Homo sapiens: one gene and its partner. The protein of the gene in region 2 interacts with the protein of the main gene of each other region in a biochemical or structural test. Each region holds a gene or a part of one and is shown on either strand. Other genes may lie near its edges. The genes, in order: IQSEC1 and SYT3.

Region 1 (12,454 bases), on a different chromosome or scaffold from region 2:
GGTACTGTCCCTGTGTCATCAAGAAGTGACAGTTCTGCTTTGCTGAAGGGCATTCTTCCGGGTTCCTCTTCTGTACTGCTCAGAAGTTTCCCTTGAAGGGACAAGTGAGGGCCGGATGGGGGAGCCCTGGCCACGGGGTCGACTCCTCTATCCAGGAACCATGTGCCCTGGGGCAGCGGCTTCCCTCCGCTGAGCGTCTTCCCTCCGCTGAGTGTCTTGTCCTTGCTGAGAAGTGGGGTAGTGAAACCCCTCGGGAGAGCAGAAGCTGCTGTGAGGTGGCATGAGGGTATGGGGGTCCCCAGCACACATAGTAGATGAGCACATGTTAGTAGAATCTCATCCACTGGGTCCCGGGAAACTTTTCGACCGGGCCTGGCAATAGTTCCATCCCAGAAAGAAGAATGACCCACGGTAAGTTTGGGGACGAGGAAGAGTAGCCCCAGGTCCATGTGTGTCCCCCTGGGGGAGGAACTGCCAGGGGCTCTGGTGAACAAATGCAGAGCCCATTGCTGCCTTCCTGAAGTCCCTTCGCCCCCAACACACACAGGTTTGGGCAGGAGGTCTCAGGAAAACAGGGTGGCTGCGTGGTCTGCGAGGTCCGGAGCCAGCAGGTGAGAAGGCCCTGCGGGGAGCTCTAGGCCTGAGCTGGAGGTCCTCGTACTTGTGCCGCCCACAAAGTACAGTGAGGGAAGAAAGGCTTCCTAGATCCCAGCCTTGGGCCTCTTATGGGCCCCAGGGGCTTTCTAAGCTCCACTCACAACCCAAAAAATAGAAACTTTCTGCTTACAGTTGTGGAAGTGAGGTCATTTCTTGGATGGCGTTCAGTAACAGGGCGAGAGAGAAAACAGACTGTGGCCTGGGATTGGAAAAGTCATTTTGATCTGCTCCCCTCAAGCCCCCCCAGCTCTTCTCCTCCACCCAGCCTGCTGGGACCACCCAGAGCCAGGCAGCACGCATGGGCATGCAAGGCCCTGCGTGGCCCTGAGCCAGTCTCCCTGGTGCAGGCCACAGCCTTCGATTTGCTGGACGTCTGTTTGGCATTATTTCAGTTCTGCGCCTGCAGCTGCCTGCTCTCCTTGACAGACCCCTCGCTCCTCGAGGGCAAGGACCTCCATGCCTCCCATTCCACCTCCAGGTGTGATGTGATGCCCAGCATGTAGTGGCATCTGGGACCATACAGGCAGGTGCAACGCTTTGCCTGGCTCCTAGCCCCACATCACATGCCCACGCCACCCCAGCACCCCAAGAGGCCTGGCTTGGCGGAGAAGCCAATTCCTTATCTTGGCCGCAGGAGTGTGTTCATTGTCCACTCAGGAGCAAGGTGCAGGGAGTGGCCCTCAGGACCGTCCTTGGTCACGGGTGCCTCAGGAATTCGGGAGGTCTGTGTGTCCCGCTGAAGCACCCAGGGTTCACCCCGCCCTCTCCCTGCATGTAGCTCACCCCTCACAGGAACGAGCTGTGTAGGCCAGACGAGCCATCTAGGAATGGCGGTGCTCATGAGGGAAAGCCAGCTCCAGAGCCTGAAGGCCTCTTGAGTATGTGTTGAGTCTCTTCTCTGGGCCACAATTTGCCCATCTGTAGAGCAAGGGAGCTTGGGGGCTTTACGAACTGTAAATCCCTTCCCAGAATGCAGCTGAGGGTCTTTCCAGCCCAGCTGCCCCCGTGCTTGGCATGTGCCAGCCCTTGGCCTCTGTCTCCCAGGCTCACCACAGTCATAGGAGGCAGGTCCCAGCACTACCCCATTTAATAGATGAGGAAACCGAGGAACTGCATGGGCTCAGTGCTTACTCTGGGTCACCCAGCTACCAAGGGGCATAGCCTGGATTAGAACTCAGGCACCTGGCCTCAAAGCCTGCTTCTCAGTGCAGCAAACCCCACAGGTCTCCCTGAAGCTCAGTGACCCATCTGGCCACAAGAGCTGCCTGGTTGATGCTGTGGAAAGGAAATGAGTCCAGAAGCCTGTGGGCCTTGCTGGGATCTTTAGCCTATCTCTTGAACTGTGCATACTTCTTCCAGGGTCTCCAAATGGGTTTCGTTAGATGGCATACCTCAAGATGCACCAGGGCCAGGGGCTTCTGTGACCCAAGACACTGGGGACACTCAACATAGTGTATCTCACTGCCTTTTAAAGTTTCTGAGGCCCTGCATGGTGGCTCACGCCTGTAATCCCAGCACTTTGGGAGGGCGAGGCGGGTGGATCACCTGAGGTCAGGAGTTCAAGACCAGCCTGGCCAACATGGTGAAACCCCATCTCTACTAAAAATACAAAAATTAGCTGGGCGTGGTGGTGGGTGTCTGTAATCCCAGCTACTCGGGAGGTTGAGGCAGGAGGATCGTCTGAACCCAGGAGGCGGAGGTTGCAGTGAACCGAGATTGTGCCATTGCACTCCAGCCTAGGTGACAGAGCGAGATTCTGTCTCAAAAAAAAAAAAAAGAGGTCTGAGAGAGGAAAAACATGGTTGCACTCATTTTAACTTGGTGCTTCTCTGTCCAGTTTGACCTTGGGACTCATATTTTGCATAAGCCCACCAGCATCCCTCAGCAGTTGCTTTGACCAACTTTGGGACCTTCCCAGGTCGCACAGCCACGTGGCTAGGAAGTGGGAAGGAGTTTGGTAAATGTCGCACTGTGCCTACATGCAGTGCTGTTCTCATTCTCCTCTCCCACCCGCAGGTGGAGATGCTAGAACGAAAGTATGGGGGGCGCCTGGTAACCCGCCATGCGGCCCGCACCATCCAGACGGCGTTTCGCCAGTACCAGATGAACAAGAACTTCGAGCGCTTGCGCAGCTCCATGTCAGAGAACCGCATGTCACGCCGGATTGTGCTGTCCAACATGAGGATGCAGTTCTCCTTTGAGGGGCCTGAGAAAGTGCACAGCTCCTACTTCGAGGGGAAGCAGGTCTCAGTGACTAACGACGGCTCCCAGCTGGGAGCCCTGGTGTCCCCTGAGTGTGGTGACCTCAGCGAGCCCACCACCCTCAAGTCTCCGGCCCCCTCCAGTGACTTTGCGGACGCCATCACCGAGCTGGAGGACGCCTTCTCTAGGCAAGTGAAATCACTGGCCGAGTCCATCGACGATGCCCTCAACTGCCGCAGCCTGCACACTGAGGAGGCACCGGCCCTGGATGCGGCGCGGGCCCGGGACACCGAACCCCAGACAGCCCTGCACGGCATGGACCACCGCAAACTGGACGAGATGACGGCCTCGTACAGTGATGTCACCCTGTACATCGATGAGGAGGAGCTGTCGCCCCCTCTGCCCCTCTCGCAGGCAGGGGACCGGCCGTCCAGCACCGAGTCGGACCTGCGGCTACGGGCTGGGGGCGCAGCCCCAGACTACTGGGCCCTGGCCCACAAAGAGGACAAGGCTGACACGGACACGAGCTGCCGGAGCACGCCGTCGCTGGAGCGGCAGGAGCAGCGGCTGCGGGTGGAGCATCTGCCGCTGCTCACCATCGAGCCACCCAGCGACAGCTCTGTGGACCTTAGTGACCGCTCGGAGCGGGGGTCACTCAAGAGGCAGAGTGCTTACGAGCGCAGCCTTGGCGGGCAGCAGGGCAGTCCCAAGCATGGTCCCCACAGCGGCGCCCCCAAGAGCCTCCCCCGGGAGGAGCCTGAGTTGCGGCCCCGGCCCCCCAGGCCCCTGGACAGCCACTTGGCCATCAATGGCTCAGCCAACCGGCAGAGCAAGTCTGAGTCGGACTACTCAGACGGTGACAATGACAGCATCAACAGCACGTCCAACTCCAACGATACCATCAACTGCAGCTCCGAGTCATCGTCCCGTGACAGCCTGCGGGAGCAGACGCTCAGCAAGCAGACCTACCACAAGGAGGCCCGCAACAGCTGGGACTCGCCTGCCTTTAGCAACGATGTCATCCGCAAGAGGCACTACCGCATCGGCCTGAACCTCTTCAACAAGTGAGTACCATGGGTGACCCCTCAGGGTGGGCAGCTGTGGCTTGCTGGGCCTTGGCGGGTGGGCGTGGCTGCATCCTTCCAAGCACGGAGCTTGAGGTCCACCGTGGCCTATGAGCATAGGAAGCTGCCACACAAGGTCGGTGGCTAGGACGGTGCCAGCCTGTGCGCTGAGGCCTAGCCCCTCCTGGGACTGCTGGTGGGGATGGCAACACACACAGGCTGAGCAGGGGCAGAATGGGAGCTTTCTGTGCCGAAGCAACTTGAGTCCCGGGCCCTTCCGTCCCATCCCCCCCAAGTCCGCCATAGCAAGTGGGGTATGTTGGGCCATGCCCTGCGCAACTTTGGATGTCAGGCCTAGGGGTGATGTGGGACACAAAGGCCTTTGAGCAGGGGTATGACCGGTTGTGTCAGTGGGGGGCAGGGGCAGACAGGCGAGACCCAGGGCTGTGTCTTGTGGGGGATGCAGGCCAGACCTGAGGCCATGTCTGGGGGTAGGAGTGCTCAGGGGCAGTTGCTGGCCAGACCCAGAACCGTGTCCTGGATGGAAGGAACTCAGACAGATGCAGGCCAGACCCAGGGCTGTGTCTGGGGGTCTTGGGGAGATGCATGAGTTGGGTTCATGGAGTAGCTGCTCCCCAAGGGGGTCCTGGAAAGGTGCCGTTGACCATCCTGAGAGCAGATCCAAGGAGCGATGGGTATTTAAAGCAGACTATTCTTAGCACAGCCAAAAATAGCAAGAGGAAGGGGAGGAGGGCTGAGCACTTGGCCTGGGGAACGTGCAGGCTCCTGTCCAACCTGAGATTTCTCGTTATTTCCACTCCCTGGGCTACTGGGATTTGGCCTCATCAGATGCTGGCCTGGCACCAACTCCCCTGGGCTGGTGGTTCCTGACACACATCCGGGGAGCCAGGGGCAGACGACAGTTTTCCCAGGAGGTCAAACTAGGGTGATGAATGGCGCAGTGGGACCTGGCCACCTCAAAGCCAGTGCCTGAGCTGGCTCCCTGCTCCGTCTGCCCCCTGTTCTCTCTTCTTCTAGACTGGGGGAGATGGTGCTTTTGAGCCATTCCTGGGACACATGGAAGCACTATCTTGGGATGTCAGAGAGGCCTGTCTCAGGAAGAGCCTCTGGGGAATGGTGCATTCACTTGGGGCCAGTAAGGGGCAATGGCTTACTGGTTTGCTCAGCTAAGAACAAAGAGTCTTGGACATCTCACATCTACCAGGATGCTCTCTCCTGAGCCTGTGATCTGCCTGTGGCTTGCTGCAGAGTACGGCTGCTCTCACTGCTGCACAGGCCACGGCCGGAGCAATGCGCTGGACAGGGGAGGGTTGCATCCTGCTGGCCCACCTGACACGGTCCCTGAAGTCTGTCCCCACTGCTCCTGGGCACAGCCGAGCTCCAGGATCATCTCTCGACCCAGGCCCATGTGCCCTAGAGGGGAGGCTGGGATAACCAGGGGTCCCTGCAGAGTGGACAGGTGGAGGCCAGCAGTGGGGAGACAGGAAACCAGGAAAAACCACCTCCCTCAACCAGCCAGCTTTGGTCTGTGTAGATTCTTTCTTATTCAGTTAACTTTTAATTATCTGTGTAGCACGTGAATACATTCTTCACAGAAAATGCATGCCTTGCAGCTCAGGATAACATCCTCTTGGACTCAGCATGTTGCAGTCTCTCCTTCCAGATTTTTTTCCTGTGCATTTGTGTGCACTTCTAGGAACTCTAGACAGCCATGGTTAAGAACACAGCTTGGGGCTTGCTTGCCTGGCTTTAAATCCTGGCTGTGCCCCATCGTATCTCTATGTCCTTGGGCAGCATAACCCCCCGTCCCACAGTGGCCGCATCTGTGAAATGGCTGATGCCAGGGGCACCCTCCTCCCAGGGCGGTGAGGGTAAAGCGTTGGTCTGTGTGAAGTGCTGAAAGCAGGACGTGGCACAGGATAGGGCCTTACTATGTATTAGCTGCTACTGTTGGATCCTTGCTGACATCACTCAGGGCGCGGGACTGTGACATTGTCTTATGAGGGTATCGCTGGGCTCTACACACAGGCTGTCTTGCTCCTGTGTGCTGCTGAGTGGTAGTCCCCGCCGTGGCTATAGGTTATTTGGCCAGTTGCTTCTAGCTTTTCATAACTAGCACTAGTGTGACAGTGGTTGTGATCCTTACACACACACCTGGCAGGCCTCTAGATCATATGGCTGGAAGTGGAATTGCTGGGTCTTAGCTAGGCACGTTTTTAGTTGAAGGAGGAACTGCCCTTTCCCTTCCCTTTCTTTGGCCCTGCGCCTGTGTACCACCTCCACTTCTCTCCCTGCGGGGTGGTATGTCCCGGCCTTTGCCCGGCCTCCAGCACAGCTCTCAGTTCCCACCCCTTCCTAGCAACGAAGCAGTGAGCGTTCCTGGCACAGGCCTCTGTCTGGGGGGACGCCCCCTTTAAGGGAATCATGTACCAAAGTGGGAGAGCCAGCAGCAAGCGGGGAGGAAGAACAGAAACGAAGCCTGAGAAAGTGGTGTAGGTTGGTGGGGAGGGCATCCCGGGGGCTGCCGAGGTCTACCAGGCCTCCAGATGTTCCTCTGGGCATCTGCCGCTTACTCCCAGCTGGCCCAGCTGACAGCCACACAGCTGATCTGGCTGGCGGTGCTGCGGGAGGGCAGGGGTGCAGGAGCCAGAGGCAGGAGGGTTTCAGTCCTGGATCTGCCACCTATCAGCTGTGGGACCTGGGGCAACTCCCTGAACTCTCTGAGCCTCACTGCCTGCACCCGGAACATGTTTGTGCAGTGGATGGCAGCTGTTGTGGTCAGCAAGGGCTTCTGTGTCCAGAGTGCCAAGGGAAGGGAGCTTCCAGGGCTGGGCTTTAGGAAGACCCAAACAGGCATTGTGATGGGCCAAGCAGTCAGAAATAACGAGAATAGCTAATCCTTCCATGTGCTGACGGTGCGCCAGGCATGGTTCCCAGGGCCTGTCACGCGCTAACGCACGTTACCCTGTGCAGTGGGTGAGCTGAGTCTCACATAGTTGGTAGACGACTAGGGACGTCACACCCTGGCCACTTGGCTCCTGAACACATCCTCTTAAAATCCATGATGTAGGAACTGCTACCACAGGTATCCCTGGGCTCCCTACCTCCTCACTGGGTGACAGATCTGTAAACTGAGTCCAGGAGGCAGAGCCACACCATCTGTGGGACGCCATGCAGCCCTGCAGCACATGGAGCTGGGGCAGGTGCCCAGCAGGGACCTCACTGAGTCTGTCACCTCCGCATTGGAACCCCACCCCAGCGTCTCCTGCTCCTGTACCTGGTACACACCGTCAGGGGTACATGCCTGGCTATGTCCACTTTCTGTCTGTCACATTCCTCCCTGGAATGAGCCCAGGTGACCATGTCACAGGTGAGCCACACCAGACCTCTCCCACCTCTGCAAGAGCATCCTTGGCCCCAGAGCTGCTTCATGATGACACGGGCACCCTCAAAAAGGAGTGAGAAGCTTGTCTCTGAGAAACATGTACGCAGGGCTTGGGTGGCCACCTGGTGTGACAGTGTGGTTGGACTACTTGGCTAAGAGCTTTCCACAGGGGCCTCTGAGGCCCTTCCAGCACAGGGCCCTGTACCTGGAGGCAGCCCCCTTCTGTGGACCTGGCCTCCCCTACACTCGGCGCCCAGCCCCTGGGGCCCAGCAGCCTCGGGTCCCATCCACCTGCTGGAGCTACTGCAGAAGGGAGGCAGGGGATGCTGTCACTGGGATCCTGCAGGGAGCGTGGCTGTTTCACCCTTCCAGCGCCCCCAGGGGGCCATTCCCCTCCACCTGTGGGAACAGGGCTCAGAGAGTACCCCTGATCTGCATGCTCCAGCTCTGTGCTCCTTGTGTTTAACGTGTCTGCTGTCATTGATAAAAATAGCAGTGAGCAGAGCCGGCCTGTGCAGAGCCTGGACCAAGCGCCAGGCCCCATGCCGAACACCTTCCGCCTATTGTCTCACTGATTCGCCACAGCCATCCTGGGAAGCGTAGGTGCAGGCAGCGAGGCTGAGAGCCCAGGCCCAAGCTCAAGGCCACACACCAGAAGTGCTGGGCCCAGAGGATGTGCAGTGCTGCTCCCGTAGCCTGTGGTGCTGATGATGGAAAGGATGGGCTCTCTTAGGAGCACTTTGAGCTGGGTCTTTGGAGGTTGGGACCCCTCTCCCCTAGACACAGGCCACTGTGGCCTGTGGCCCTTGATGCTACCCGCAGCCCAGGATCCCGAGCCCTGGCCTGGGTCTGAGGTGGCTGGTGCTGAGTCTTGGAGAAGAAGACAGTGCCAAGGGAAGCCCTGCAGGGGGTGCTTGCCACACTTCAGAGGGTGATTCTCCTGCCTTCTCTCTGGGATCAATACCAGGGAAGCCACTTGGGTTCACGCTACCAGAAAGTGCGTGTAAAAGTCAGAGCTGGTGGAGCAGGCAGCCTCCGGAGGTGGCGAGCTTGCTGGCCCTGGCAGTGTGGGAAAGGCTGGAAGTGGCACCTCTCTGCAGGACCCTAGGTTGCTGCATTGGAAGGGCATTTTCAGGTGTGCAGGGACTCTCCGAATGCTGAAGTTGGTGAGTCTATCCTCACCCCCACAAGCAGTTAACAGTTACCAGGGCTCAGACCTCTGACCACGGAGATCCTCGGGCACTCCAAACCCTGTGTTGGTCTCTGCGTTAATCATGGCCTTCTCTGTTGCATGTGACAGGAACTCTATCAAACTGGGTTAAGCAAAGAGGCTTTACTGGTTCACGGACCTGAAAAGTCCCGGGTATTTCTTGGCTCCATCTGGCTTAGGGTTGGCCCTGCCCCTTGCCAGATCCTCCCTGACCCAGGGCAGGAGGGCCATCAGAGAACCCCAGGCCTGTAGTCTGACCTCAAGGCAACCCCAGTAGGAGGAAGAGAGATTCTCCTCCCCTCATCGGCTCCTTCTGGCTCTTGTGCCTCTCCCTGAACCACTTGGGCAAGCAGGATGCAGGGCTCTGACTGGCCTGGAGCAGAGAGTAGAATCTGCCCACTAGGTCTTAGGGCCTGAGCTGGAGGGTAGGCTGGGAAACCTGGGGGCTGAAGCTAGGTGCTTGGGCATCCATCCACTTCCACATCTCTTAGGCATCCTGAACAGTTAAAAAGGACTGGAGCCAAGCACAATGGCACATGCCTGTGGTCCCAGCTGCTTGGGAGGCTGAGGCGGGAGGATCACTTGAAACTAGGAGTTTGAGGCCAGTCTAGACAACATAGTGAGACCTGGGTCTTAAAAGAGAGAGAGAGAACCCTTTCCTGGATCCTGCACACCCCTGCTGGGAAAATACCAGGGTAAGCACTCAGTGCTTTGCTCCAGCAGGTAGGTGTTCCCCACGTGCAATCCACAGCCTTGCAGCAGCTCTTCCTCAGAGCCTCACACAGCTCACTCTTCCCACCAGCAGCTCAGCTTGCCGCTGAAAGACGATGAGAGATGCGTGTGCAGGAAGTGACTGGTGCAGTCTGTGCTTACCTGTCACACTTGAATCTGAATCGTCATCTGATGTGAGGAAAAGCTGGCTCAGCCAGCTTTAGAGGAGGCAGCTAAGGCCAGACCTGGGAGCACACAGCAGGGATGGAGCCAGGAGGCTCCGACTACACTGCCTGCTGGGGCATTTTAGGGGGCAGCAGGGCCGGGGGTACAGAGGTGGGTCAGGTATAGATGATGAGAATGTTGCAGGCAGCACCTGTTAATGCTGGGTCCTTACAGGGTGGAATCAAGAAGAGCTAAAGAAAGAGTAACGGGTATACACAAAGGGACTGTGGGAATGGGGTGACTGCAGAGTTGGACGGAGTGGATTTTCAGCAGCAGGAAGGGCATCCGGAGGGTAGAGGGAATTTTTAGGGACTTCTGGGGCAGAAGCGTGGATTATAAGTCCTGGTACCCATCATCTTGCTGGGCAACCTGGAGCCAGTTTTTTGACCCTTCTGTGCCCCCATTTTGTTACCTGTCAAGGCTTTTGCATTGGCTGTTCCCTCCACCAGGGACCTTCTTCCTGGCTCTCTGCCCAGGCTCAATGCCATCTCGTCAGGGTGGGCTTTCCTGCCCGTCCTTCTGCCCCTTCCAGCTGAAGTCGATGCCGTCCCAGCTTTCTGTGGCATCACCCCGGGTGAGTTCTTCTAGCCCAGGCCTCTCCTTCCAGCTGTGAAGCCTGAAATGGTTTCTGAGGCCTGAGGCATGGTACGTTATGAGTACGAACTCATGGATTCTTCACAGTAACCATTGTGTGAACTGCTGTCATCCCCATTATACAGACACACAGAAAGGCTAAGTTCACTCACCCTGGGTCGCCCAGCCAGAAGTGGAGCTGAGACGGAAGTGTGGGCTTCTGACTCTCCCAGCCATGCCCCTGATGCTTGTACTGTAGCATATTTCTGTATTCTTGGACTTTATCTCCGTCTGTATCCCTCTCTAACTAGAAAGCATGTTTTTTGACGATGGGGACCATAACTGTGCTAGCATAGCACCTAGCCAGGGTAGGTGCCCAATAAATGTTTGTGGAATGAATGAAGGAGGTGGGTGTCCATAGGGGACCGCACAGCTTCCCCCTTGAAGTGACACAGACCCCTCAGCTCACAGTTCAGTGGCTGAAGCATGTCCTGCAGCCCTCTCCCCAGGGCAGGCGGGAAAGTAAAGTCCTGCCAGGAGAGGAGGTGGTGGGGGTCCAAGGCCACACCAAAGGCCCACCTTCGACCTGTGTGATGCTTGGCAGACCTTGTGGAACTCTGTGAGGCAGGGCACAGGTGGATGGAGAATTCACCACCCAGCAGGGCCACCAAGGACTGATTGGGGAAGGAAGGGCTTCATTACACGGGCTAGGAGTAGGGGAGGGTAGCAAGGTCCCAATGGCAGGGGATTCCCACCAGTAAATGCCCAGTGCCCTGGCCGTCTGCTGTCAGGGAGGCTGTTGAGGGCCTGTCACTCCTGCAGGGAGCTTTGCGGAGACTCCCAGCCCCACCCTGGAGCCGGCCCTGGCTGTCCAGCTGCAGCTTCTCCCTAGTTCCCCTCAGGTCAGCAGCGAGCTCTTCATCACCGGCCTAGGCCCCCTCACTGAGCATCCTCACTTCTGCGGTATGGCCCTTGAGGCCTGCCGGGTGGAATCCATCGCCCGCACTAGGTTCAGGCTAAAAGCTGACGCCATCCTGGACTCACTGCTCCTTGTCCTTCTTGCTCCTACCTCCACCGCCCCCACCTCGGCCACCCCCACCCAGATCCATCAGCAAATATTGACACCTCTGCCCTCAGACTGTGTCCTCAACCCGGCCCCCTCCCACCTCTGCTGCAGCATGGCCAGGTGCCCACAGGAGCCCCTCACTCAGCTGCCAGCTGGGCCCTGGCCCACGATCTCCCCAGCATGGCATCGCTCTTGTGGACTTAGGACCCCATCACCACCCTCTTGACCTCACACTGGGGCTTCTCAGCCCACTCGGGAGAAAGCCAGACCCCTCTCCATGGCCTGCTGTACAGTGCAGTCTGCCCACCGCCCCACTACCCCCTTCGCCTTCCCCCAGGGTCCCTGTGCTCAACCCTGGAATAGCCTCTCAGGTCTCCCCACCCACCTCAGCACCTTTGTCCTCACTGTCACCTCTTCCCAGAAAATTGCCTGATACCTCAGTCTCTGTCCCTTGCCCCCTGCACAGACTAGGCCTCTCAGCTGCACCCGCAGGGGCCCACGGCCTACTCCCAGCCAGTGTTCACCAAGAGGTGCCTGGCCCAGCAGACACATGGTGCTCACCTAATCCTGAAGAGCCCACGTGCCCGCTTCCCACAGCACCTTCCCCTCTTCCCTCTGTGCTCTGAGCACCTCCAGGGCCGAGGAGCCTTGTCCTGGAAGTCCCTGGATGTGGCACATCCACATCAGAGGGTGGATGGGGGCAAAAAAAGAGCAGCGGCAGAAGGCGGGACCCGGCTGGGCCTGGACCTGGTCACTGCAGCGGTGGCCTGGAGGGACCAGACAGCCTGGGTGGAGTTAGAGCATGCACCTATGTGGGGAAGGGACCAGACAGCCTGGGTGGAGTTAGAGCATGCACCTGTGTGGGGAAGGGACCAGGCAGCAGGGGTCGGGGAGCCTAGCCCGGCTCCCCCACTCACTGCCGTGGAGGCCAGGGAGCATAGGCCCAGGGACGCCAGAAGGTCTGATTTTTCAGAAGCCAGAAATCCAGATTTTTTGTGCACTCTTCCAGTTTTTAAATACTGGCAACGAACTAGAATTCTTTTTGTTAACAGTGTGTGGGCCAAAGAAAACCCAACTGTAGGTGAGCCATGGCGACCCCTCACCTGGAAGCTGAGGGAGGGAGAGAAGGGTGTGGGCTGGTGCTGGCATGGAGCAGGATGGTGAGGACCCAGAATCTGCTCTGGCCTTGGCTGTAGAGGCCTGGGGCATTGGAGCAGTTCTTGTTTGGAGACCCCCGAATCATAGCGAGGCATGTGATCTTGTGAATAGTGAAACCCTGGTCCTTCCATCCTGGGTCCCTGGGACAGGTAGGGACCGGGGCCACTCCATTACCACTTCTG
Region 2 (12,379 bases):
CCCAAGTAGCTGGGACTACAGGCGCCTGCCACCATGCCCAGCTAATTTTTTGTTTTTGTATTTTTAGTAGAGATAGGGTTTTACCATGGATGGTCTTGATCTCCTGACCTTGTGATCCGCCCACCTCAGCCTCCCAAAGTGCTGGGATTACAGGTGTGAGCCACCACACCTGGCCCAGAGTGCTCCTTTTTAAGTGACCAACACTCACTGAGCATTCTGGGTGGCCTGTTAGAAACCAGAGGCAAGGACTTTATGAGCCTCCTGAACACAGGTTGAGTTGAGAAAACAGGGTCATTGTGGAGAAAAATTAAACAGATGCTTTCCCCTACCGCCAGCCTGATTCAGACCCTGTCCAACTCAAAACATGAATCCCACAAACCCTGACAGATTCCCCATTCCTGTCTGCACAGACTGGGGAGTTATTTGGGCGTGGAGAGGTGGTGTAGTTGCGCAGTAGAAGATTCACCTTGCCCAGAGAAAGGTTTGGCCCTTGATCAGCTCCCGGGAGGGAACCTCTAAGCCCATGGAATGTCCTGCCTGATTAGAGTGTCTTTGTTTACCTGGGGCCTTGGATCATGTGGCATAGTCTATGTTAACACTGTGATATATGCTGGAGGCCTCCAGCTCAGCCTCTGGAGGAGCTGGAGACTAAAGTCAGCCACACCAGCAATCAGTCACGTATATGAGGCCGACCCCCAATAAAAACCCTGCCCACCAAGGCTCAGGTGAGCTTTCCTGGTTCGTAATAGACTGTGCATGCTGTCACATGTCGTTGCTGGGAAAATTAAGCACTGTCCATGTGACTCCACTGGGAGAGGATGACTGGAAGCTCACACCTGGTCTGTCCTGGACTCTGCCCTGGGTGCCTCTTCCCTTTGCTGACTTCAGTCTGTATCCTTTCACTGTCATAAACCATAACCATGAGTATAACAGTTTCCAGCCAGGCGTGGTGGCTCATGCCTGTAATCCCAGCACTTTGGGAGGCTGGGGCGGGTGGATCACTTGAGGTCAGGAGTTCGAGACCAGCCTGGCGAACAGGATGAAACCCTGTCTCTACTGAAAATACAAAAAATTAACTGGGCGTGGTGGCAGACGCCTGTAATCCTAGCTACTCTGGAGGCTGAGGCAGGAGAATCACTTGAACCTGGGAGGTGGAGGATGCAGTGAGCCGAGATCCCACCATTAATTACACTCCAGCCTGGGCAACAAGAGTGAAACTCCATCTCAAAAACAAACAGACAGACAAACAAAAACAGTTTCCTGAGTTCTGTGAGTCAATGATTCTAGCAAATCATTGAACCTGAGGGTGGTCATGGGCACCTCCAGACTACAGTGCTGTACTAGACTATGCAGGATTCAGTTCTGCCTCTGCTACCATTGAGCCTCTGGGCAAGTGACTGCTGCTCTCTCGGCCTTATCCCTCATGACTGTCACCTGGACATCCTGCACATGAGGTGCCAGACCCTGCCCTGGTGCTCAGCAAGTGTGACTGTGGTTGTAATCACTCAGCACATGCTTCCTCTGGTCACCGTTTCCTCATCTGGACAATGGCACTCATAATGTTTCCTCATTCCCAGAACCCTGCTGCTTTCTAGCTGTGTGACCTTGGACAGGTCACTTCACCCTTCTCAGCCTCAGTTTCCTCTGTTGAAAATGGGGATTATATGTTCCACAAAGGGTCACTGTGAGTAATCATTGAGATGTGCAGAGGACCTCGCATGCTGCCTGGACCACAGTTGGTGCTCAGTAAGTGAATCCCAGCATTGTTCTAAGTTCTTCGTAGGTGTTATATCATTTAAGTCTTTCATCTGCTCTATGAAGCATCCCTTTTATTATCCCCATTTTCCAGATGAGGAGACTGAGTCCCAGAAGAAGAGTCACTTACCTACAGCCATGCAGTTATTAATAAAGTGAGGGAGATGGGACTTGAACCCAAACAAGTCAGTCTGACTCAAGAGCCTGACATTTGCACAAGATGCAGAGAGATATCTGAAGGGGGCATTTGGTGGTGGTAGTCGGAGGGAGGCCCACAGGGCAAAACTCAAAAAGCAGACCACACAGCTCCTTCCCCTTGGATCAGAGATTTGGGAGAAGGGCAGCAGCAGGCAGAATGGGGGCAAGACGCTACGAGGGACTGACCCCACAAGCAATGGAAAGCTGAGCAGTTCTGCTCCGAGTCTCCTGGCCATAGTGCAAGCAGGGGGCTGGCCAAGACAGGCAGGGGTGCTGACCTGCATCTGGACCCCGGGGATAGCCTCGGATTCGGTCATTGAACTCCTGGCACCTGTCGTTGGTGTCAGCATCTCGGACCCGCGCACAGAGGTCCGAGACCAGGATGAGTGCCCGCCGGCAGAGGTCATCCTCGTAGTCTCCTGACATGGTGGCCGTCTGGTCCTGTGTGTGGGAGGGATGGGGCAAGGGTGCAGATGGGAAACAGAATGGGAGTGCAGGGTGGGCAGGTGTGGAGATAAGGGTGGAAAGAGACACCGAGAAAAGGAAGGATGGGCAAAGGGGACAGAGATTAGGGGCAGATGGATTAGGGATGGAGATTCGAGGAAGAAGGACAAGGTGACAGGTATTAGGGATGGACAAGGAAAAGGAATTAGGAGTAGACAGACAAGAGGGCAGAAATTAGGGATGGAGATAGTAGCAGGGACTGGGTAAGTCAAGGGGACAGAGATGGGCATGAGTGGAGTAGAGGACAGAGAACAGGGACAAATGAACAAGGAGGAAGAGATGGAGAAGGGCAGTGAAGGGGCTAAGAATGAGGATGCACAAATAAAGGGATGGACAGATGAGGAAACAAAGATTAGGGCTGCACAGATGAAGGAACAGGAGTTAGGGATGAGCAGACAAGGTGCCAGCCATTCATCATTCATTCATTCAACAAACATCCATCCAGCACCAACTACGCCCTACGTGCTGTGCTGGTTGCTGCGAATCCAGCAGAGAACAAGGTCCTGGAGTTCCCTGACCTCCCGGTGTCACAATCCAACGAGAGGAGACATAGAGTAAACAAGCAAACAAAAACACATACACAAACCGGTCACTGTCAGACTGTCTGTGAGAAGCGCTCCACAGGACACAGCTGGAGAATGTGTCACAAAGGAACTCAGAGGGGGGCGGTCAGGGAGGGCTCTCCCAAACCTGAAGGATGACATGGAGCCAGCCACAGGCGGGGGGCAGTGGCGCCAGGATGGGAAAAGCATTTTAAAGAAAAGCATTTTAGACAGTAGGAGCAGGATGACAGGGGCTTAGGGTAGGAAAGCAGTTGGAGGGTCCAGGGACCAAGGAGGCCAGACTGGGGTAGACGCGGGGAGGGCCAGGAGAGAAGGATGGATGTGGGTAGAGAGATTGGAGGTGGATAGGTATGGTGGGAGCTGGGGGTGGAGAGGTGGAGATGCAGAGATGGGGACCAAGTTGAGGGAGGGAGAGATACAGGGAGGGGAGACAGAGATAATGTGAAGGGCAGACTGAGGCTCCGAAGAGATGGAGAGGTGAACAGGCAGGCAGAAGGAAAGTCAAGGATTGAGACTTGGGATGGACAGTGACAAGGAATGAACCGAGATGTAATTAATTCACGGGGGCTTGAGAGACGAGAGGACGAGAGACGGTGAAGAGGGGCAGGCAGGAGTGTGGGCAGAAATATCTTTGAAAGAGAAACGGTCGAACGGGAGGATGGATGGGTGGGCAAGGACAGCAGATGATGGCTAGAGATCGCAGATAGACAAAAGGAGACAGGAGGGCTGGGCAGACAGACATGGGTTCATAAGGGAAGGTTCAATGAGCACATAAATGAGAGGAGGCTAGGAAGGAGAGGTGGATGTGGGGAGAGGGGGAATTAGTGACACATGGCTCGGAGCCAGGCATCAAGATGGGTTGAAGGGGATGCAGGGGAATTAGGAACAGACAGACCAGGGCTCACAGATGGACAGGTGTCGTGGGGGTGCTGCAGAAGGCCAGGACTCCAAGACAGGCATGGCCACACTCACCTGCGCTTATCTCTGCCGTGTCCTGGGTGGCAGCCGAGGCGGCGGCGGGCGGCAGCCCATGGGGGTTCTAGGGCGGACAAGGGGCTGTGGACCCGTTCCCACGCGCCGGGTAATGAGAGAGAATGTCTGATCTAGGGGCTGAGGCCGGGAGAAAAAGCTCAGCTTAACAGTCACATCTTGCCCTACTCGAGCCAGCTGCCCGACCCCAGGCGACCCACTGGGAGCCCGGCCACCCCCTCCCACCTCCGGGCCCCCAGCTCCCGTTGAGGGCTTAGAGACTACAATTCCCGGCAGGTCTCGCGCTCGCGCTGCTGCGGCTTCATAGACCCGGCGCTGCAGGATCTGCTGGGAGTTGAAGTCCTTAATGCCTCCGGGCTGCAGAGAGGATGGGATTTTTTTTTTTTTTTTAAGGTTTTGGGGGGTTAAGATGCTGGGGTCCCAAGACGCTTCAGGGGAGGGGAACGATGTCCGGGACTTCGAAAAGCCACGGAGCCCTAAGTCCTTAGGGGCCACGGAATGAGGAAACGATCCCCCCGCGCTGGGGATCGGTGGGCGAGGGGTGGGATACACCCAGGTGTTTCGGGACCCCCTTCCAGGGCCACGTGCCCCTCCCCCGGGGTGGCCAGAGAGCGCTGCAGCGCTCCCACTCCCCGGCCCGAGATCCACGCGCCTCTGCATCTACCCCGCCCCCATGCGCCGGGGCCGACCCCAGGGATTTGACTGGGGCTGGGGCTGTGGCAGGAGGAGGGGGAGGAGCGGACTCACCCGGAGCCGCCGCTGCCGCCGCTGCCGCCGCCGCCGCCGCCGCAGCCCCGCGCGCCAGCCGCGGTGCCGGCTCGGCTCCTCCCCTCGCCACTGTCGCAGGTCCGCGGCTCCTCCCCCTGCACCCCCTCCTTCCCCCACTCCGAACCCGCGGCAAGAAAGCCGAAATCACTTGGCCTCAGCAAGGAAGCAGGGAGATTGCCCGGGACTAAGGCAGCAGAGACCCAGTGGGTTTCCACACTGGGGACCCAGAGATCTAGGATCACGACGTGCTGCTTCTCCAGGGTCCGGGGGCCCAGTTCTCCGCCCCGCTATCTCACAGAGGTAGAAGTCCGGGGACCCCAGGCCCCTCTTCCCAGGAACCCAGGACTTCAGGCCCTCCAACCTGAGCCGCTCTGAAGGCCGGTGGTAGGAGCGGAAGCTGAGACTCAAAGGTACAGTGCCACAGCCAGGATAGAGGTACTAGCAGGGACCTGGGTTTGAATCCCACCTGGGCCAACTCCTGCCTGTGTGCGCCTCTTGCTCTGAGGCCCCGTTTCCTCATCAGCAAAATACACACCATAAACTTATTTCCTAAGGGATCCACAGTTTGAAAAACCGGTCAGTGTAGACAAAACATTGGTACCAACTAGGTACTTAATGAATATTTCTCAAAAGTAGTGAGTAACAGTTTCTGGTATATTAATAGCAGTTAATGGCAATTGTCATTTCCTATAAGTGGTGAAGTGCTAAGTGCTTTGAAAGCGTTTTCTCATTTAATTTTCACTTGGGTGCAATTATGACATTCCCATTTCACAGAGGAGACAACTGAGGCCCATGGAGGTTAAATCCCTTGGGTAAGGTCTAGATCAGGGGTGTCCAATCTTTTGGCTTCCCTGGACTGCATTGTTGTCTTGGGCTACACATAAAATACACTAACAGTAACAATAGCTGATGAGAAAAAAAAAATCACAAAAAAATCTCATAATGTTTTAAGAAAGTTTACAAATTTGTGTTGTGCCGCATTCAAAGCTGTCCTGTGCTGCATGCGGGCCTCAGGCCATGGGTTGGACAAGCTTGATCTAGATCTACATAGCCTGGAGAGGTGGCTCGGAGGCCCCCTCAGTGCTCTCAATCAGTGACATCCAAATAAATACAACCTCTAGGTAAAAATCAAAGGCTGGGCTGACACCTGTAAATCCCAACACTTTGGGAGGCTGAAGTGGGAGGATCCCTTGAAGCCAGGAGTTTGAGACTATCCTGGACAACGTAGGAGACTCCATCTCTACAAAACAAAAAAACCAAAAAACCAAAACAAAACCAAACTAGTGGGTGTGGTGGCGTGCACCTGTAGTCCCACCTACGCAGGAGGCTGAGGTGGGAGGATTGCTGGAGCCCAGGAATTTTTTTTTTTTTTTTTTTTTTTTTTTGTGAGACAGAGTCTTGCTCTGTCGCCCAGGCTGGAGTGTAGTGGCGCGATCTGGGCTCACTGAAAGCTCCGCCTCCCGGGTTCACTCCATTCTCCTGCCTCAGCCTCCTGAGTAGCTGGGACTACAGGCGCCTGCCACCGTGCCCGGCTAATTTTTTTTGTATTTTTAGTAAAGACGGGGTTTCACCGTGGTCTCGATCTCCTGACCTTGTGATCCACCCGCCTCGGCCTCCCAAAGTGCTGGGATTACAGACGTGAGCCACCGCGCCCGGCCTAGCCCAGGATTTTGAGGCTGCAGTGAGCTATGATTGCACCACTGCATTCCATCCAGCCTGGGCAACAAAGCAAGACCCCCATCTCAAGAATAAATAGCCAGGTGCGGTGGCTCATGCCTGTAATCCTAGCACTTTGGGAGGCCAAGTGGGCGGATCACTTGAGCTCAGGAGTTCAAGACCAGCCTGGGCAACATGGCAAAACCCTGTCTCTACAAAAAATACAAAAATTAGCTGGGTGTGGTGATGCATGCCTGTAGTCCTAGCTACTTGGGGGGCTGAGGCAGAAGGATCACTTGAACCCAGAAGGTGGAGGTTGCAGTCAGTGAGCCAAGATTGTGCCACTGGGCTCCAGCCTGGGCGACAGAGTGAGACCCTGTCTCAAAAATAAACATAAATATGAATAAATAAATAAATATTTAGAGCAAGAAATAAAAATGTCAAAATAAGTAAGTAAATAAAAGTAAAAATTGCTTGCTGCTTCTGCAAATACAACTTTAAGCACGCATCCTGGGCCCTCCCTCTAATTAGATTACACCCTACCCCTATTGCTGCCTATGTGTACATTTTGCAGCCATTATACTACCACAGAACCCCCAGAAATGCCTCCCAGGTTTGCCGAGTCTCTTCCTTGTGGCTTCTTGCATCCCCCCAGATGGATGTGTGTTTACATCCAGGGAAGCATGTGCGGGTGTAAACCTACAGACCACGAGTGCAGGTCCCCATGCCAACTCTAACAGCCCGACCCTTGAACCCTGCTGGGCCTGCCCAGGGTCCACAGGTAGCCCTGTTCCACAGGGAGAGACACGCAGTGATGCACACACTCAGAGATGGGCACACAGATGGGCTTGCCACGCTGCCATGACACGTTTCCAAAGAGACGCTCGGATTCCGAGGCTGCCCAGGCATTGAGAGGCAGCCGTAGTGCACTGGTTTTCTGTGTGACTTTGGGGGCAGAGCACTGGGATTCAAATCCCAGCTCTGCTCCCCTCTCTATGCAACCTTGGAGGGGTTACTTAGATTCTCCATGCCTCAGTTTCCCTCTCTGTAAGTGCAGATAATAATACTTTAAAAAATCATACTCTGGCTGGGTGCAGTGGCACATGCCTGTAATCCCAGCACTTTGGGAGGCCGAGGCTGGCAGATCACCTGAGGTCGGGAGTTTGAGACCAGCCTGACCAACATGGAGAAACCCCGTCTCTACTAAAAATACAAAAATTAGCCGGGCGTGGTGGCACATGCCTGTAATCTCAGCTACTTGGGAGGCTGAAGCAGGAGAATCACTTGAACCCAGGAGGCAGAGGCTGCAGTGAGCCAAGATCATGCCATTGCACTCCAGCCTGGGCAACAAGAGTGAAACTCTGTCTCAAAAAAAAGAAAGAAAGAAAAAATCATATTGTATCTCACTGGGTTATTTTGAGGGTTAAATTAAATTCATGGAAGGTGCTTAGGAAAAATGGCTAGTGTTTAGTGTTGTCATAAATAAAAATTAAATGCATTTGCTCATTTAAACTTTAGCTGGACTTGACAAGTGAGGAAATTGAGGCTCACCAAGGGAAGCGCTCTGCCCAAGATCACACATCTGGAAAGTGTGAGTGGAGATTAAAAACTGTATGGGTCTGGACCAAGTGCAGTGGCTCACACCTGTAATCCCAGCACTTTGGGAGGCCAAAGGTGAGAGGATCCTTTGAGCTCAGGAGTTGAGACTTGCCTGGACAACATAGTGAGACCTCATTTCTACAAAAAATACAAAATTTAGCCGGGCATGGTGGCACACACCTGTAGTCCCACCTGCTTGGGGGGAGGCTGAGGTGGGAGGATTGCTTGAGCCCCAGAAGTCGAGGCTGTGGGGAAATGGAGGCTGCCCAGAGTCCCGTCCTTGTGCCTTCTTGCATCCCCCCGGATGGATGTGCGTTTACATCCAGGCTGGAGTGCAGTGAGCCATGATCGTGCCACTGCACTCCAGCCTGGATGTCAGAGTGAGACCTTGTCTCAAAACACAAAAAGAAAAAACAAAAAACGGAGTGGATCTGAATCCAGAGCCCTTGCCTTTAGCCACCATGCTGTTTGCATCTAGGACCCATTTGAGGACTTGCATGCTACTGCTGCTAGGAGTATAGAACAATATAAAGAACACCGGACAGGGAGCCAGGAGACAGAGATAGAATCTTCCATATTCATTCAACTCGATTCATGCAGTCATTTGAGAAATACTTTCTGAGCACCTAATGTGTGCCAGGCATTTTTTTTTTTAGACAGCAGGGATTCATCTGGGAACAAAATAGACTAAAATTCCAGGGTTGGAAGAGCTCATGGTCTAGTGGAAGAGACAGAAAATAATCAAATAACTACACATACTAGGATCCTCATACTAGGATCAATGCTAGGAAGGAACATCCATTGTGCTGTGTGTTTGAGAGAGGTCAGAGAAGTTCCTGAGCAAGTGACTTTTCAGCTGAGCTCAGAAGGATGAGTAGGCATAAGCCAGGTGGTGAAGATGAGGGAGGGGAGGGGAAATGCTCCAGGGAGAAGGAACAGCTCATGTAAGACCTGGGGGCAGGAGGGAGTTTGGCACCTTGAGGGCTGTCAAGCACACAAGCCCCGTAGGAGTAGCACTTTGTTTTGTTCATAGCTGTGTCCCAGCTGCCTGGCACAGTACCTGGCGCATGGTAGGCACTCAATACTTATTGGTTGGTTGAATGAATGAATGAACATGTGAATGGATAAGTGGAGGAATGTGTGAATCTATGATGTATTGATGGATGGGTGCATGACTGGATAGATGCTGGAAGGATAGATGAAGGGATGGACAGATAGGTGGATGAGTGAATGGCTGGATGGATAAGATGGATGTTGGAGGAATAGATGAAGGAATGGATAGATGAAAGAGTGGATGGTTGGGTGCATACATGGATGATTGGATGGATAGATGAAGAGTTAGAGTGGGGATGGATAGATGGATACTGCAGAAATAGATGAAGGGATGGATGAGTGAATGGCTGGATGGATAGAGGATAGATTGGTGGATAGATGGATGGATGTTGGAGGAATAGATGAAGGGATGGATGAGTGGATGAGTGGATGAGTGGATAGTTGGATGGGATGGATGGAAGCTGCAGAAATAGACGAAGGGATGAATGAGTCAGTGGTTGAATGGATAGAAGATGGATGGATTTGTGGATGGGTGGATGGATGTTGGAGAAAAAGATGAAGGAATGGATGGATGAGTGGATGATAGGATGGATGGATGCTGCAGAAATAAATAAAGGGATGGATGAGTGGAGGGTTGGGTGGATGGATGGATGATTGGATGGGTAGATGGAGAATTAGATAAAGGATGGATGGATTTTGGAGAAATAGATGAAGGGAGGGATGAGTGGATGGCTAGGTGCAGGGATGGATGATTGGATGATTGGATAGATAGATGAAGAGTTAGATAGAGGATGGTTGGGTGGATGTTGGAGAAATAGATGAAGGGATGGATGGATGGGTGACTGATTGAATGAGTTTTCACAAATACCTACAGATTCACACACATATGTGCCTGGAGGTAGATGCAGATACACTCAGAGGCATGCACACATGTGTGTAAATACAGATTCACTTGTTCTCCTGGTGCTCCTCCTGGAGAGAGCAAACACTGAGAATGGGGAGGTGGGGAGACACACCTTTTGGCCAGGGCTATGGCCATCCCTGCCACCACTGCGGCGCTGACAGTATTTCTGGAATTGGAGGAAAACGCTGATTCAGGGGTGTGTGTTTTAGACTGGGCACCAGGCCAGGAAGTGGGACAGGGATGGCCCAGAGAGATGGATTGAGTGGCAGAGGGAAGTCGGTCGGAGTAAGGCAGAGAGACAGGCAAGGCGACAGAGAGGTGGAGACACACAGAAGCAGAGAGATGGGGAAATAGGCAAAGTCATGGAGGCAGAGACAGAGACATAGAGAGAAAGGGAAGGAAAGAGAGATGGAGACACAGAAACAGAGATGGGGAAATAGAGTGATGGAGACAGAGACAGATGTACAGAGAGAAAGACAGGGAGAGAAAGATGGAGATACAGAGACATACAGAAATCTACAGAGATGCAGACAGTGAGAGACAGAGATACAGGAATACAGAAACCTGTGATACAGGAATTCAAATTCAGACACACACTGTAGTCCCAGCACTTTGGGAGGCTGAGGCAGGCAGATAGCTTGAGCTCAAGAGTTCAAGACCAACCTGGACAACATGGTGAAATTTCAGCTTTACCAAAAAAATACAAAAATTAGCCAGGCGTGGTGTGTGCGCCTGTAGTTCCACCTACTTGGAAGGCTGAGGCGGGAAGATCGCTTGAGCCTAGAAGGTTGACGCTGCAGTGAGCTATGATTGTATCACTGCATTCCAGCCTGGGCCCTTGTCTCAAAAAAACCCCCCACGAAACCCAAACCCCCACAAAAATCAAATGCAGACACACAGAGAGAGATGAGGTAGGGTTCCAGAGACAGGTAGAGAGAAGGGAAGAAAGATAAAGACACAGAGAGCAAATGGAGGCACAGATAGATGGAGACATAGAGTCCCAAATCCCAGAGGGAAGAAGAGAGACACAGAGGAGCAGAGAGAGATGCAGAGGAGGAGGGACAGTGACATCCAGCCAAAGCTAGATGCAGAGTCAGAGGACTGGAAAGGAAATTACCTCCTTTTGGGTGCCTCCTTGGTGCCTGGCTCCGATTTGGGGGTGCTGCTGTACCTTGCTTCACTTAAGCACCAACAGCCCTTGAAGGTAGCATTGAGGAAGGCAAGAGATAAGGAAGACGAGGCTCAGAGAGGGGAAGACATTTGCCTGACATTGCACAGCCTGGGAGCAGCATTTGATGCTGGTCTGTTTGATGCCAGAGCCCATGTTCTCTTCTTCAACTTATGTTGGCTCGTGAAGACCAGGAGGGACAGGGCAGATGGGGTTAGGGGGCTACTGAGTGTGGGTCACAGAAATAGAGGGAAATAATCATGTATTCATTCAACTCATGTGTCCTGAACTTCCCAGAAGCCTGGCCCTTGTGGCGTGATGCCAGAGAGCCAGAGATGAGTCAGGAAACAAATTTCTGAGCAAGACAGATGGGGCGGAGGGCAGTGTTCAGAGGTCTGGAGAAGGAGCAGATAAAAAAACAGTCGGAGGGAGGAGACAGAAAACACAACTGGTAGGAGGATGAGTCAGAGAGGGCTTCCTGGAGGAGAGGGCACTTGAGCTTCTTATTAAAAGATGAGGGCATTTGGGGACATGGGGAAAGGTTGGAAGAGCATTCCAGGCAGAAGACACAGCATATGGAAAGAGTGGAGACAGAAATAAGGTGGGATGTGTGGGAGGGATTATTTATTTATTTATTTATTTATTTATTATTTTGTTTGAGACAGAGTCTTGCTTTGTCGCCCAGGCTGGAGTGCAGTGGCGCGATCTCGGCTCACTGCAAGCTCTGCTTCCCGGGCTCACGCCATTCTCCTGCCTCAGCCTCCCAAGTAGCTGGGACTACAGGTGCCCGCCACCACACCCGGCTAATTTTTTGTATTTTCAGTAGAGACGGGGTTTCACCGTGTTAGCCAGGATGGTCTTGATCTCCTGACCTCGTGATCCGCCCGTCTCGGCCTCCCAAACTGCTGGGATTACAGGTGTGAGCCACCGCGCCTGGCTGCGGGAGGGATTATTTATATAAAATAATTAATAAAGGGTAGGTGGAGAATGTTTGGAGGGGTGAGGTTGGGAGAGGGAGGTGAGGTTAGATCATGCAGCTCTTTCAGTCCAGGTGAGGGGCTGAAAGTTTGTCTAAGGCACTGGGGAGCCCTGGGAGGGCCGTGAGCAGGGCAGGGGCAGGTCAGTTCCGGGCACAGAAAGACCACTCTGGAGCCTCACTTGTGGGGAGAGGAATGAGGGCGAGAGAATGGAGGATGGGGCGGCCAGGAGGCTGGGCCAGGT

Evidence for each region.
Region 1: the proteins of SYT3 (region 2) and IQSEC1 form a complex in vitro, tested with the Homo sapiens proteins (one study listed by BioGRID).

The regions. Positions count from the first base shown.
Region 1 is NC_000003.12:12,926,917-12,939,370, reverse strand, and holds part of IQSEC1 (IQ motif and SEC7 domain-containing protein 1), read left to right. Parts: intron 1-2,673; coding exon 2,674-3,923; intron 3,924-12,454. UniProt on the Homo sapiens protein: Guanine nucleotide exchange factor for ARF1 and ARF6. Guanine nucleotide exchange factor activity is enhanced by lipid binding. Accelerates GTP binding by ARFs of all three classes.
Region 2 is NC_000019.10:50,635,033-50,647,411, forward strand, and holds the start of SYT3 (synaptotagmin-3), read right to left. Parts: upstream 4,850-12,379; 5' UTR 4,758-4,849; intron 4,368-4,757; exon of another isoform or gene 4,131-4,367; 5' UTR 3,993-4,130; intron 2,914-3,992; exon of another isoform or gene 2,395-2,913; 5' UTR 2,380-2,394; coding exon 2,232-2,379; intron 1-2,231. UniProt on the Homo sapiens protein: Ca(2+) sensor involved in Ca(2+)-dependent exocytosis of secretory vesicles through Ca(2+) and phospholipid binding to the C2 domain.